2 separate regions of the Homo sapiens genome follow, and region 1 is linked to region 2. Evidence: fine-mapped expression QTL. A gene starts in region 2. The other region holds a variant in brackets. All regions are shown on one strand. Distances are between the middles of the regions. Region 1 overlaps RIMKLB (ribosomal modification protein rimK like family member B). Region 2 holds the start of RIMKLB (ribosomal modification protein rimK like family member B).

What was found. PIP is the estimated chance that this variant, and not a neighbour inherited with it, causes the effect. A credible set is the group of variants that fine-mapping cannot tell apart.
Region 1: its variant is the best candidate, but not a certain one, in a credible set for the expression of RIMKLB in whole blood (TOPMed, PIP 0.62).

What each region holds. Positions count from the first base shown.
Region 1 is chr12:8,767,292-8,772,675 of GRCh38, reverse strand. All of the region lies in intron 5 of RIMKLB (ribosomal modification protein rimK like family member B), which reads right to left. Among named protein-coding and RNA genes, the nearest start is that of LINC02972, 18 kb to the left of the region's middle. RefSeq lists enhancers at 1-67, 68-569. The variant T/C (reference allele first, on the strand shown) is at 2,460.
Region 2 is chr12:8,695,434-8,700,817 of GRCh38, reverse strand. RIMKLB (ribosomal modification protein rimK like family member B) reads right to left here and starts at 2,827. Exons shown (of 6, transcript NM_001297776.2): 1 at 2,521-2,827. RefSeq lists silencers at 2,223-2,392, 2,923-3,022 and an enhancer at 2,032-2,998.

The DNA of each region.
Region 1 (5,384 bases), 72 kb before region 2:
GTGAGGATGACATGTGAGTTTACCCGTAGTGTTTGACCCCAAAAAGGCCAGAAGTAGCTGGACAGGTGAGGTGGATCCTCCCTACCACTGAGGCTGTAGGAATAAAGAAGTCAAGGAAACAAAAGGCTTCTTTTAGGTACCTCCGTAGAAGACTGGCCCGTGAATTAAATGATTCTGCTTCACAGCACTTCTAAGACTGAGGCCATGTAGAATACTACAAATAACCCAAGCTGAGTGAGCCCTGATGTAAAAACAAAACAATAATAATCCATCTATGACTTTGATGAAAGAAATAAGAGCTCTTTAAGGAGATTCAAGTTCAGCACAAAAAGATTTTCTGAAGTTAAAACAAAAACATGATTACTCAACTAAAAAATCCAATAGAGAAACTCAAAGAGAGTACAGTCGCTTTGAGAGTTGACTTAGAAAATCAAGTAATATGCAAAGCATAGCTAAAAATGTGAGGTGAAATCATAAAGATAAAAAATTTGGGCCAGCTGTGATGGCTCATGCCTGTAATCCCAACACTTTGGGAGGCTGAGGTGGATCACTTGAGGTCAGGAGTTCAAGACCAGCCTGGCCAACATGGTGAAACCTCGTTTCTACTAAAAATACAAAAATTAGCCCGGTGTGGTGGCAGGCGCCTATAGTTCCGGCTACTCAGGAAGCTGAGGCACAAGAATCGCTTGAACCCAGGAGGTGGAAGTTGCTGTGAGCCAAGATTGTGCCACTGCACTCCAGCCTGGGCGACAGAACGAGACTCCATCTCAAAAACAAAAACAAAAACAAAACAAAACAAAAACAAAACTGGAGAACTGAATCAGAAAAATATTCCTCAGAAGGACAGAAACAGATGGAGAGGCAATAATTAATGAAGACATTTTCCAGAAAACTGTATAAGGAAGAAATTTAGTCTGCTGACTAAAACAGCTAAAATCCAGGTTGAACTGATAAGACACAAATATATCTACAAAATCCCAATAAAATGTGAGCGCCACTAAAAAAATTTACAAAGAATAAATTACCCACAAAGGAAAAAAATGAGAGTAGATTTGGACATTAAACTGCAACAATAAAATCTTCAAGGCAGTAGAATTGAAGCTAGACTCTTACAATATAAGAATTATATCTCAGACAAAGTATTATTCTTCTTCCAAGGAGAAAGATGTGTGATATTCTGATCTAAATTATATATTGGTTTTTGTCCACAGTTCCTGGCATATCACTCCAACAGCCCTTGTTATAGTCTTTTGTTATAATGTTGGGGCACTTTCCTTAGAAAATAGAATCTAACCTTCCCCTGTCCTCCTTTCACCTACCCCACAGCAGGACTCTAATCTTTCACAGCCTTTCTGATTGTGGGTCATAAGACCTCATTCCAGATGAGGTCCTGCCCCATACCCTGGAGGAAGGAATGTGGCACAGAGAGGCCAAGAAGAATCTGAACATACAGGCCTTGCTGGGTTTCCCTACTCAGTCTACTAGTGTTAGATCATACCCTTTTGGTCCAATTACATTTTTACATGGTTATCAATTATGTCTATCCAATTGGATATCAAAAAGGGCAAGGTTCAGAAAACTTCTGGATAGCTGGACACGTAGAGGCTCCTGAAGGGTGGCAAGCCGTGGGAGGGCATGGAAGCTCCATATCCTTTCTCCCATACCTTGCCCTATGCATCTCTTCACCTGTATCCTTTGAAATATCCTTTATAATATACAGATAACACAATGTAAGTGTTCTTTGAGTTCTGTGAGTTGCTGTAGCAAATTAATCAAACCTAAGCAGAAAGTCACGGGAACCCCAACTTGAAGCCAGTTGGTCAGAAGTTCTGTAGGCCTGGACTTGCAACTGGTGTCTGAAGGGGGTGAGGTGGGAAGTTGGGGATATTCTTGGTGACTCCTGGTGACTGAGCCCTCAACCTGTCAGATCTGATGGTATCTCCAAATAGAGAAATCCCCCACACGTGGTCAAATAAGTGTTCCATGTGAATTGTTGTTGAATGAGAGAATAGAAAAAGCACTTTGAGTGTATTTTTTGTATTAACAGAATATGTGAGGGTATCTATGACTCTGATAGCCCACCAGGAAAAATAATCAAGAAATGATACTAACATACTAGTAAATGGCTAACAGAGATCTCAAGATATGGGAAGATGAATATGAGGAGTAAACCATGGTGAGTACTTTGCAATATAGGTATAATTCATTTTAAGTGGATAAAGACAGACTGCCTGGGAATGGATAAAGTGCTATATAAGGGTTCATGAAACAGAAGAGACATACAGTAAAACAAATTCCAAACAGATGAACTAAAACTATTAGATGATTTCAGCAAAACTGGAATATAAGGTCAATGAGACTAGGGATTTCTGTCTGTTTTGTTCACTAGTATATACAAAATACTGCTACAATAGGCCAGGCGCGGTGGCTCATGCCTGTAATCCCAGCACTATGGGAGG[T/C]CGAGGCGAACAGATCACCTGAGGTCAGGAGTTAGAGACCAGGCTGGCAAACATGGTGAAACCCCGTCTCTACTAAAAATACAAAAATTAGCTGGGTGTGGTGGCAGGTGCCTGCATGTGGGAGGCCAAGATAGGAGAATCACTTTAACCCGGGAAGCGGGGGTTGCAGTGAGCTGAGATCATGCCATTGCACTCCAAGCCTGGGCAACAAGAGCAAAATTCCATCTCCCAAAAAAAAAAAAAAAATTATTGCTACAACAGTACTTGACGCTTTGGAGGTACTTGAAACTATTTACTCAATAAATGAGTCAATCAAGTGGAAAGAGTAGGAAGGAAATAAAATTGTTCTAATATTCCCATTGGAGGGGAGAGGGAACAAGGAACACCAGGGGAAAGTAAAGGTATTCCAAAGACTTCATTATTATTATGATGATACAGTGAAGTAGTAAATAAAGTATCAAGGAAAATTATCTTCTCAAGTAACTGTAGAGAATCTGTCTGATTATGAGCATAAGAAAATAGAAGGTAACCATTAATGGAATGCAAAACCCTGGTTGATCTCCCAAATTAACTGGGTTTGGTGGCAGGAGTGAAAATAAAATGGTACCTTACTAACCAGCAAAAATTAGAAAAGAAAAAGAAAAAGGAACAATTTGAGTTAAATAATAAACACAAAATAAGATGGAAGAAATTTTAAGTATATTAGTAATTACACAAAAAATGGACCAAATCTTCCATTAAAAGATGGAAACTAGTCCGATTTGAATAAAAAACAAAACTTAGCTATATACTGCTTATAGAAAACACGCAAAATAAACTTACTTCACAGCTTTATTTCTCCTGACCAGAGTATATATCCATATATACATTTTTTCCTTTGTTAAATATAAAAAACAATTATGCTAGTCACACACCAAAAAAAATTAATGAAATTAAAAAAAAATGTTACAGGCCACATTCTCTGACAACATTAGTAAGTCAAGAAAATCAGAAGGTAATAGGGTAATGGTAAAGGTAGCCAAAAGAATATTAACTACTTTGAGGTTGCAAAACTGATCCCTTGGATCAAAGAAATCACAAAGGAAAATGAGAACCAACTGTAAATAAAAGAGAAAAATGCTTTGTATTAATACCTTCCAACACTGTGAAAATTCTCCAGAGGAAGATGTTTAACATGAATTGCCTTCATTTTGAAACAAGAAACTAAGTGTTCTAGCCAAAGAAACTAGGAAGAGAGATATAATGAAAACAAAAAGTAAAATGAATACAACAGAAAGATAGAATTTTTTAAAAATACAAAAGCTATTTTGACAAGAATAAGAATGACAATAAAGAGAATCACATACAAAGCAGAGATTAAAAGCAGCATATGCAAATATCTCACAAAACTCTTTGGCAAAAAACTGGAAACCTAAAAGAAATGTATCATTTTCCAAGCAAATGATAAATTTCCAAAACCGCCCCCAGAAGTGGCAAACTTTAACAGGGCAATTATTACAGAAGGGTTTCAGAAAGTGATAAAAGCTATTACTGCAAAAGGAACTAGGATGAGAAAGGTTCACGGCTCAGTTTTACTTAGCTATCCTTTATTCCAATGTTACTTTACCAATATAGAATGCCCTAGGAAAAGACTGAAAACTCCCCAATACATTAAATAAAGCCAGCATAACCTTAATATCAAATGTGATAAAGTTTTTTAAAAATAATAATATTGGCCAATCTTATAAAAACAGATGAAAACATTCTAAGGCAACCCCCTTTGGGTCCCCTCCCTTTGTACAGGAGCTCTGTTTTCACTCTATTAAATCATGCAACTGCACACACTTGTGGTCCGTGTTTGTTACGGCTCGAGCTGAGCTTTTGCTCACTGTCCATCACTGCTGTTTGCCACTGTCCCAGACCCACCGTTGACTTCCACCCCTCCAGATCCAGCAGGATGTCCTCTGTGCTCCTGATCCAGTGAGGCACCCATTGCTGCTCCTGATCGGGCTAAAGGCTTGCCATTGTTCCTGCACAACTAAGTGCCTGGGTTCTTCCTAATCGAGCTGAACAGTAGTCGCTGGGTTCCACAGTTCTCTTCCGTGACCCATGGCTTCTAATAGAGCTATAACACTCACCACATGGCCCAAGATTCCATTCCTTGGAATCCCTGAGGCCAAGAACCCCAGGTCAGAGAACAAGAGGCCTGCCGCCATATTGGAAGTGGCCCTGCCGCCATCTTGGGAACTCTAGGCACAAGGACCCCCTGGTAACATTTTGGTGACCACGAAGGGACCTCCAAAGCAGTGAATAATATTGAACCACTTTGGCTTGCTATTCTGTCCTATCCTTCCTTAGAATTGGAGGAAAATACCAGGCACCTGTCAGCTGGTTAAAAATAATTAGCATGGCCGCCAGACTTAAGACTCAGGTGTGAGGTTGTCTGGGAAAGAGCTTTCTAACAAACCCAAACCTTCTGGATTGGGAGCGTTGGTCTGCCTGGAACCAGCTTCCGCTTTCAATTTTCCTGGGATAGCTGAGGGCCGACTAGAAGCAGAAAGCTGTCATCCCGAACTCCTGGTGTTAGCCGGTTGAGATCATGGCGCAGACAGAAGTCTCTACTCAACAGATGCCCATGCGTACACCCCTACTTTTCCTTCTGACCCATAGCTTCTGGGTCCCGACCACGACTTTCTTGAAAGTGTAGCCCAAAATTCTCCTTACCTCTGAATCTACTTCCTCTGATCCCTGCCTCCTAGGTACTAATGATTCAGACTTTCATTTCCTCTAGCAAGCTGTATTTCCAAAGGGATCTAAGGAAGCTCTACACTGCGTCCTTAGGCCCCTAGGCTACGAAGCCAGAGAGTCTTGTCCCTGGTGTCTCTCCCAATTTAGGCATACAGCTCTCGACATGGGCAGTTATGTGGGACCTGTTCCCCACCACCC
Region 2 (5,384 bases):
CTGGGATTACAGGTGTGAGCCACTGCGCCAGGCCACATAATTACAATTTCTAGAGGCTCTTTTCTCATTTGCTTGTGACTTAATCCCACTTGCAGAATACTCTTTGTAAACTAATCTGCCATAAAACAAAGTCTTTCTATGAATGTATATCACTGAAGCGCCCCCAAAACAGTTGTCAGCAAGCAACATACAATAAAACTCACCCTCCTTACTTTATGTTTGGTTCTCTCTCTTCACATGTTGTTCGTGGGTATAGAAGTTCTTCCTCCACCCATTTTCACTCAGTTTATGTCTCTATGCCTGCTCCCCAGAGGAAGATGATAAAAGCTACTCCTGCTTCCCAAAGTGTGGAACAACTGGCTCTGCTCTGTCCCCTTTCCCCATCCCCTACTAGTGTTCATGGTTGGTCAGTCTTTCAGCTCATAGAGAGGGGAGCTTTGAGAAATAAATCTAGTGACTTACCCCAGCAGCAAATCCTAGGTGGATACAAATTGTGAAAAGGGTAATTGGGAGATATTTTAAAAGAGATGTTTCTCCATGTGCCACAACAAACCAATGCCTGAAGCTGGGTTCGTGTTCACTGGTCAAATAATGTCCACTTTAGTGTGTTTCTTCACAGTATGACTGAGAAGGGGTGGAAGATTTAGAAGAGTTTACTGGTAATTTCCCTCTGGAGAGGAAAAGGGGCCTGAATGACAAGGGAAAAAAGAAGGGGCTAATTTATTGTCACTCTCCCTGCTACTCCTAGATACTACTACTGACAAAAGTATATTAAACAGGGATTCTAAGAAAACATGGGCAAAATAAGAAAGCTATCCACTAGAAACTAAGATAAGTAGAATTTTAGCTGGTAGCCAACCGGCTAAAGATTAAACGCTCAGTTCCTTACCCCCTGCGGGGGGGCAAGGCAGGAAGAGAAAAGTGGCTCTTGACCGAGTGGAGGATTGTCTGTGACTGAATTTGCTGTTCCCCTTCTTGGCTCTGTTCTCAGAATCACAGACTGCCCCCCTCCCTGACAAGCAGACTCCAGCACCTGGTAGGGGTAAGAGAAGACAAGAGAGAAAAAAGGGAGACAGAGAAAGATAAAAAACATCAACAGCCATGTTGCCAAACTAACAACTAAATCAATGACATGAAAGAAGGAAATTAACAGCACTAACCAAGATAGAAAAGAATAAAATAGGATTACCTCAAGACAAAATAGGCCTCCTCCCCTTTGACACACTAACCAAATAAAACAGTAACCATTGGAAAAGAAATTTAACTATGATTATTTTTAAAATTAGAGGGTTGCATACTAAAATTTAGGAAATAAATGTTAAATCTCTGAGACCGGAATTTCAGAGAGTGTTTTATTCCAAATGAATATCTTAAAAGTATTCTCATAATTGCTTTTAAGAAATCATTTTTTAAAATAGAAGAAATGACCTTTAAGGTACCCAATATTGTGAAAGTAACAAAAATGAGATTTAAAAACATTTCAATTTAAATGGTTATAGTTAATAATTAAGAACACCCATAAATATAATGAACATACCAAGCCCACAAAAAAAAATCTGCATAGTAGGCTGCCCATATACTTTCTATACCTATTTAGAGTTGAACCTAACTCCACAAAGATGTGGTAACAATATATATAACTAATGGGAAAATGACAGCATACTGAAAGAATTTACATAGCAGTTGCATTGAGCATGGTTAGTGCAATAACCCCTCACAGAACAGAATTACCACCCCATCGCTATTCGCCAATACAAATGGGATAAAACAGTGAAATAACAAATGTGTGATCAGAGATAAGGACATATTAATAAGGGGAGATTGAAATTATTACCACTCTGGTTTGGGTTTTTTTTGGGGGGGGGTGAGGGGCAAGTAGTGTAATATTTACATCATGCTCAAATTTTTAAAGAATCAAAACTGGACAAGCAATTATTTGGTCATCCCCTTCTCATTCAGAGACTGTCAAAGGAAAAGATGGAATGACTGTCACACTCTCTAAAATTTACACGTAAGGAGGAAAACGTGGAATCGAATACAGTAGCTGCGGGACCGCACCACGTGATCCTCCTCCCGCGGTCGCTCCATAGAATTTGTGGGAAGGGGGGGGAGGGGGAGTGTCGCCGCAATCCCGAGGACAGGTCAGCAGCCCGCGGGTCCGACTCCAGCCGGCGTTCCCGGGGTTACCACACCCCCTCGCCGGCGGGGAAACCATACTCCTTACACGCCCGAAGTCGCCGCCCCCTCGACACGGCTCGCCCGGTCGCACGCACACGCCACGGGCCGGCGCCTCCCGGCACACGCGCGAAGGCCGGGCCCCGCCTCGCTCCCCACCGACTCCGCGGAGCGGCGACCACCGGCCTCAACTAGCCCCGGACCCCGGGCGCGCTCGGGCCGGTCCCCTCCCCGGCCCAGCCCCCGCTAATCGGGGGATCCATTCCGCTGAACTCGCCCACTCGGGAGGGCGCGCCTTCGCCTCACTGCTCTACACCCGAGGGCAACAGCGGTCGTACCGCTCACCTGGGTCGGGGGGCTCCTCCCTCGCTCTCGGCCGACTGAGCCGGGCTGGGGCCTTCGAGGAAGCGCGGGCCGCCGGGCGGCTGGAAGTGGGGGAAGGAGAGGAGGGGGAGGGGGTCGGGATACCGGGAGCCGCCTCCTTTCTCCTCCGCCGACTGCGGCTCCCGCAGGCTGGCCGGGCGTCCTCGCACACTCGCCCAGTTTCTCACAGCCTCGCGTCCCGTCAGCTTCTCCCTCACCCCACTCCCACACACTCTCACTCCCACACACTCACACCCGGCCGCTCCTCGTTCCCTCACTCGCCTGCCGCGCGCGCGCGCGACCCCGCTCACACACAGCGCGCGCGACGCCGGCGGAGACCGCCCCGCTCCCTCAGACCGAACGCCGCCCGCCCGCTTGCTGAGGAGCGGCGCGCGCCCCGGCCCCGCCCTCCTGGCGCCGCGGCGCGGCGGGCGGGGGGCGGCGGCCGGAGGAGCTGGGGGCCGGGCCAGCGCGCCGAGCACTGCCGAGCGGATCTGACACCTGCGTCGAGAGCCGCCCTCCCAGCTCCTCGCCCGCACCCGAGCCATCGCTGGCCTCGGGGGAAGAGAGGCGATGGATCGCGCGCGGGGAGCGAAAAGGGAGCGCGAGGGCGCTCCGAGGACGCGCCTCCCCACCCGCCCCCAAACCGTCTTCACTGAGAAAGGGAAACGGATGGGGGGGGTGGGGGGCGAGGTTTGCTCCCAACTCGAAACCGCGAGATTAGTCCCTTCCGTTGTACGCCCTCCCCGCCCTCACATTCCCTGCTTAGGCCCCATCAATCTGCGCCTGGAACCCCGACACGAGCCCCCTACCCCCTCGGGCGCAGGGTCCTGCCGGCATCCCGACGCCTCCCGCCCAGCCCTTCCGCCGGCCGCCGCCCGGAGTCTCCGCTTACGGTGGTTCCTCCCTCCGGTAGGCAAAGATATGGAGACAAAGATCATTCATACCTAGAAGGTCTTTATCCGGGACTGGAGTAAAGACAGTACCTCTGTATATTGAGAGGCAAATTTAAAACCACATGATAAATTTCCTGGCTGAAGCGGGTTTGGAGATACAGGCGGGGTGGATAGCGCCAGCTCTGCCCCCTAGAAACCGGCGTAAACCTTGGACAAGTTAGTTGCTACGCTTCCTCTGAGCCTTTGTTGTGAAAAGATAAAAGAGTACAGTCCGGAGTCGTTGTGAGAATGAAATGAGATATTTTAAGAGCATTTTGTAAATTCTAAAACTATGTATAAAAAATAAAAGTATAGCCCAAAGGAGGCTAAGAATATGAATGTTCAACTACGCTATTACATTTTCTTAAGGAGAAAAAAAAAGGGCTACAGACGACCTCCCAGGTTTACATGGAAGATTCACTTCCAAATAACTTCAGTCACCAGAGACACCAGGTGTGAGGTACGGTAATGTGCTCACCAGTTTGCCTTCTTGCTGGTCTCAGCCCTGTCTCAGTGACCTCAGCCAACAACTTTTCACTGCTCCTCTCCCAGTCAATTGACAATATAATTTCATTTTCTGCTTTTAAAAAATTTTTTGACTAATTTCCTTCAGCGTCTCGAGAGTCCTTTAAAAGATGTAGCATAACCCAGGGTGGTAACTTCTGGATCCAGACTGCCCGGATTGGATTTATGGTTCCACTCCCTATGTGAACCTCTGCAGTAACTTAACCTCTCTGTATCTTTATCTGCTGAGCTGTAAAAGTGAGGATAAAAATAGTCACCTACTTCATGGAGTTGTCATAAGGAGTAAATGAGTTAATAAGTATATAATATTTAACAGCTGACACAGATCAAGTGCTGTTCAAAGTGTTTAGTGCTATTATAATGTTAGGTCAGTGAGAGTAACCTAGGATAGGCGTCTAGTTGGTTTACAAAATTTAGAGGAACAAACGCCCTATAAGATAGATACACTATCTTGAGAACAAAGGGGATAAGGTCTACAGAACTAAATTGTTGCTATTTACTTCCACTCTGATATTCAGCCCCCTGGGACATAAAGTATATTCAACTCCAAGACCAAGAGAAGCATTTTGTGATCAAGGGAAGCTTGAGCACAGAGATACTAACACTGAAAATCTGACAAAATAAACACAGTGAAATTGACACAGGGAAAAAAATGTACAGAGGATCAATAATAATATTTAATTAACCTATTCCTTCAGTCCCACTCTTAAGGAATCCAATTCGTGGTAACTGCATCCCCAGAAAAAGTGGGTTGTACTGGTGAAACTGAGGATAGGAAGTATGACTATTAACTCACTTGCCACTTGCCCTTAAAAGTTGTTATTCAGGGCAGGGCGCGGTGGCTCACGCCTGTAATCCCAGCACTTTGGGAGGCTGAGGCAGGCGAATCACCTGAGGTCGGGAGTTTTGGACCAGCCTGACCAGCATAGAGAAACCTTGTCTCTACTAAAAATACAAAATTAGCCAGGCGTGATAGCGCACGCCTGTAATCCCAGCTACTCAGGAGGCTGAGGCAGGAGAATCGCTTGAACCTGGGAGGTGGAGGTTTCAGGCCGAGATGGTGCCATTGCACTCCAGCCTGGGCAACAAGAGCAAAACTCTGTCTCAAAAAAAAAAAAAAAAAAAGTTGCTATTCAATTTATTGCTTCTATGTGCCATACACATTCTAAGATATTCTCATGTATGTAACAACGTTGCTTTTGACTTAAGCTAATAGGGAGTAAAACAAAGCTCAGGAGGGTATTTAAAAAAAGCCAATGATAAGGCTTAAACACATTACCATTATCATGATATTGTTAAGATAATGTTTATGTGAGTAATGATCAAATTCATACATCATACTTTTTATATGAAGTAATAAGGGGGCAAAAATTATTTACACCATTT